2 separate regions of the Homo sapiens genome follow, and region 1 is linked to region 2. The links come from fine-mapping of genetic effects on gene expression. Tissue or cell type: lung. Region 2 holds a variant in brackets; the other region holds the start of a gene. All regions are shown on one strand. Distances are between the middles of the regions.

Region 1 (2,694 bases), 160 kb after region 2:
AGATAATCACATCTAGCCCCTCTACATTCCCTTAAACTCTCCTGGAGGAATGTCCTTCATTTCCCTAAATAGCACACATTTCAGTGAAAGTGAAGGTAACAGGAATTAGTAGCTGTCATCTTAGAGACATGTTACTTAGTATTCTCTATATTAGTCTGGAGAGCTGTAACACAGACAGGACAAAGAGAAATAACCATAAGAAAAATATTATTGACAACTACAATTGTGTCAAAAAATTGGTGACTATAATGTGCATCTCTTTGCAAAACCTTTCCTTTTCATTAAATTAAAAAATGACTCTATCATCTGTTATAAACTAAAATGTCACATAAAATTTCATACTATAGAAATATCTTCTATAGTTTTGATATGAATATAGAAGGTTAATGAATGAAGCAAACCACAGGCAATGATACATGAAATTGCTACTATATATTATTTTCAAAGCTGAGCCAGATCTATATATAGAACACAAGATATTTCAAAATGAATGCTATTTGTTGTCTTTGTAATTTTACAGACTATTAGAACATTAAAAAAACCCTAGCAGAAGTATCACATGTTCATACCAAGATATTATATATATGTATGCAGATGTACATATATAATCAGATTTTAAATAATAAATACTAAATTATTTAAAAACATTATAGAGCCATACCCCCACACCCCTTTTCTAACAGTAAGAAAATAATCAACCTGCATGAACTGGAATCAGATTCATTTTCTTCTTCACTAGTGCCATCATCCACTTCTGGTCTATCCAGCCAATGTGCACCGCCACAATCTTCTGCTGTAAACTCAAATGCAGGGACTTCAGAGGTGGATGCCATTGGCCAAGAAGGTGAATTCTGAAAATCCAGTTGGCTGGACCTTCGGTAACCAATTGAAGCCAAAGGCAATTGTAGGCTACATGGATCTAAAAACTTTCTCCCACCGTTTGCTCCAGTCTGTCCTCGGTTCCAAAATTCTCCCTGCTGGCTGTCAACTGTAGAATTAGGAGATGATGCTTGATGACCAAACCACCTCCATCTGATTTTCAAAATCTGTTTCACATCAAACTCTTTACGAGAACCAGACATCCTCAGAGAAACCAAGTGATCGTCTAGGCAACGGGCAAAAAGCACTGCACACAGATTTGTGCATCCAACCAAGACAAGAGAAGTATATGCCCTGCTGTACACAACAAAAATATGTAAAGGAAAATAAATCACATTCATATATATATCTACAATTACTTTTATGCCAATATATCAGATTTTAAAGAACAAAGGATAATGAATAAAGATGAAACACGGTGGAACATTCCGTTCAATCAGAGCAAACTCTCATCCACCTATCCTGAAGCAGCTAGACCACTTTCCCGGCTCTCCTTTCCCATACTGACCATTAGGTCTCACAAACACTGACAGCATTCATTAAAGTCCTTTCAAATGCAGAACACCACCCCCTTTTTCTTAAACCACAAATGACAGAGACAGAAAACACTATCCCCGTTGCAGTATCTCAGTCTCTGCTGCTTAGTATATTAACTCTTTCATTGCTGAAACAATAAATGTATTCTATAGCATTTCCCTTTGTACTTAAAAATAATCACTTTAAAACTAAAATGTTTCTATTTCTAAACTAAGTCCCTAAGTGAAATACCACAAAACAAGTTTTTAAAAAAGCATTTGTAAAATTAGATGAGTTATGGTGATTTTCCAGGTGTGCTCTTTGGATGGGGAATGAGGAGGAAAGCGGAGTACAAAGGTGGGGCTCCAGACTATTGCCTTCACCTCTATCTTCTCCCTTCAGAAAACAAATGGATCTAATTAATACAGTAAGATCCTGGGTAAGATTTCACTTGGATAAAGAATAATGAGGAGAATAAAAAGTTTGAAAACTACAAAGGATCAAAATGTAACAAATACTCTTTTTCAAATAAACTGAGGCCAGGATTTCTCTATAAGTAGAAATGGGCCACTGCCAGTTAGTGTAACATCCAAATTTCTATGACATTACTTAGGAAAAGGAAAAGTGCGGCTCAAAAAAGCTACCAGGGACTGGGATAGGACTATTGGGTGTACAAGTGCCCTAATGGTGCCCTCTGTTGTTAGCAAAACAAACAATGGTTTGAACATGGTTACAGTTAAGGCAAATTGATAAAGCAAATACAAATAAACTCAAAAATACTGAGTAGTTATTGTGAACAATGCAATCTACTAGGCATTGTCAGGGACACAGAGATATATATATCTTGGTTCCTAACCCCCAAAATAATTAAATCTAGCTATTGAACCAAATACAAAATATTTGATAAGGTAAAATAAGAAACATTAAAATGCTGCAATATTAAAGTGTGATCTATCAATGCAGAATTTGAGTTTTCAGGGTGCTCAGTATTTACTCCTTTATCAACTAATTCCATACAAAAGGCAATGCCTATCTAAGCTGACCAAAAAACAAAAACAAAAACTACTTTGGAGGCTTACAAAAATATTGTGAGGTGTCTATCTTAATACAAATTATTCAGAGAAACAAGAATGAGAAGCATAAAAAGCCAAGTATGATTTCATGCTAAATAATACGGGAAAAACCATACAAACTGTAAGAAAGAAAGGAGATATCAGGATGGCAATGGAGTGGTATGGGCCAGTTTCATTAGGGAGAAGGCTGCTAAGAATAGTAAAACATTGTTTAGGTAGAATGATA
Region 2 (2,694 bases):
GACTCAATAACAAAATGGAACAAACTATGGATACACACAACTTAGATGAATCTCCAGAGAAGTCTGCTGAGTGAAAAAAAAGCCAATCTCAAAATATTGCATACTGTTTGATTCCATTTACACATTATTGAAATGGCAAAATTATGGAAATGGAGAACAAGTTGTTACCAGGGGTTAAGAATGGGGTGGCAGCAGAATTGTTCTGTATGTTGACTGTACCAATGTCAATATCCTGGTTGTGATTACTATAATGTTACCACTGCGGGAAACTAGGTAAAGGGGTACCTAGGACTTCTCTCTGCGTTGTTTCTTACAACTGCATGTGAATTTTACAAGGATCTCAAAACAGAAAGTTTAATTAAAATTTAAAAAAAGGTAACATTTTGGACTTCTATTCAGGGCAAGATAGAGAAGGATAATCTTTTCAAAAAATGGTGCTGGAACAACTGGATATCATTTGCAAAAAGTGATCTATACCTCATGGCATAAACAAAATTTAACTCAATGGACCTAAATGCAAAACATAAAACTATAAAATTTCTAGAAGAAAACATAGGAAAAAATTTTGTGACGCTGGGTTAGGCAAAGATTTCTTAGCTATGACACCAAAAGCATGATCCATGAAAAAATAAATTGATAAACTGGACTTTGTAAACATTAAAAAAAATCTTCTCTTTGAAAGACACTATTAAGAGAATAAAAATACAATCTGTGCGCTGGAAGAAAATATTTGCAAAGCATACATCTGATAAAGGAGTTGAATCCAAATATATATAAAGAACTCTCATAAATCAATAAGAAAACAACTCAATCAAAAATTGGTCAAAAAATTTGAACAGACGCTTCACCAAAGATATACAGAAAGCAAATAAACATATGCTAAGTGCCACATCATTAGTTCATTAGGAATCCAAATTAAAATAACAATGATACCACTACACATCTATTAGAGTGGCTAAAATGAAAAAGACTGATTATGTCACATCTTGGTGAGGACAGAGAGGAACTGGAACACTCACACACTGTTGATGGGAATGTAAAATGGTACAACCGATTTAGAGAACAGTTTACCAGTTTCTTGAACATGAATGTTGATAGAGGCTTTATTTGTAAATACCCCAAACTGGAAATAACTCAAATGTTCACCTATAATTCTTGGATAAGCAAATTATGATATATACATACTATAGACTACTACTACTCAGCAATAAAAAGAAATGAATTACTGACACACACAACAGCATAATGCATCTCAAAAAAATTAATGTTGAATAAAAGACAAACAAAAAGTAGTGCATACTTTATGTTTCCATTTATATGAAACTCTAGAATATACAAACATTTATTACATTTACAGTTACAGAAAAAGCATGGGGTGGGGACAGATGAGAGGGAGGAATCATAAAGGAGCAGGAGAAAACTTTTGGGGGTGATGAGTATGTTCACTATTTCTGAGCCTCAAACTCCTGAGCTCAGGCAATCAGCCTGCCTTGGCCTCCCAAAGTGCTGGGATTACAGGCATGTGCCACCACGCCTGTCCAAATTGTATAACTTTAATAGTGCATTTTTTTGCATATCAATTAAACTTCAATAAAGCTGCCAAAAAAC[A/C]TGATATTTTCTGAATCACTCAAGAATGAAACCAGGATAGTTGCTGCTTTATGAACAGACTACTACACTTATTCCAAAAGCACTGTGGCATAGTGGAAAGAGTAGATTTTCCATCAGGAAATCTTAGTTTAAGTTCCACTTTGCTACAGACTTGCTAGCCTCTCAATCTTCAGTATCTTCCTCCTGAAAATTTCCCTGTGTATTTTATAGATAATGAGATAAAATAAGTGAGATCAGGGCTCTATAAACTATTAGTGTCATACAAATTTCCTATTCCATATTTTTCCATATCACCAAATTACCTGATATATGAGACCTACCTTACTGATGTATATTATCTCAGAGACTTACTAGTTTAGGTCAAACATAAATTTTAAAAAGTCTCTCAGATGGCAACAAGCATGCTTTAAAACATGTTCTTTTAAAAAAAATAATTTAGGCCAGGCTCCTGTGTCCCATGCCTGTAATTCCAGCACTTTGAGAGGCCAAAGTAGGAGGATCACTTGAGACTAGGAGTTCAAGACCAGCCCAAGCAACAAAGGGAGACCCAGTTTCTACCCCCATCAAAAAAAAAAAAAAAAAAAAAAAAATTAATTAGCAGGTTTCTAAAATAAATAAATAAATAAATAAAAAGAAAATATAAAAAATGTTTCAGCTGGGCACGGTGCCTTGCGCCTGTAATCCCAGCACTTTGGGAGGCTGAGGCGGGTGGATCACGAGGTCAGGAGTTCAAGACCAGCCTGGCCAAGATGATGAAACCCCGTCTCTACTAAAAATACAAAAATTAGCTGAGTGTGGTGGCGGGTACCTGTAATCCCAGCTACTAGGGAGGCTGAGGCAGAGAATTGCATGGGCGACAGAGAGAGACTCTGTCTCAAAAAAAAAAAAAAAAAAAAAAAATCAAGGAGGTCTGTTTCTAAAAAAAAAAAAAAGAAGAAGAAGAAGAGAAAAAAGAAAAATAATTTAAAAAACTAAAAATTAGCACGACATGGTGGCATGCATCTGTCCTAGCTACTCAGAAGGATAAGGCAGGACGATTGCTTGAGCCCAGGAGGTTGTGATTGTAGTAAGCTATGATTGTGCCAC

Evidence for each region. PIP is the estimated chance that this variant, and not a neighbour inherited with it, causes the effect.
Region 1: it holds the start of KLHL5, and the variant in region 2 is fine-mapped to the expression of KLHL5 in lung (TOPMed, PIP 0.95).

Annotation. Positions count from the first base shown.
Region 1 is chr4:39,061,041-39,063,734 of GRCh38, reverse strand. It overlaps KLHL5 (kelch like family member 5), which reads right to left and starts at 1,503. Exons shown (of 11, transcript NM_015990.5): 1 at 700-1,503. The coding sequence starts at 1,082.
Region 2 is chr4:39,220,375-39,223,068 of GRCh38, reverse strand. The region is part of intron 14 of WDR19 (WD repeat domain 19); the gene reads right to left. Among named protein-coding and RNA genes, the nearest start is that of WDR19, 39 kb to the right of the region's middle. The variant A/C (reference allele first, on the strand shown) is at 1,609.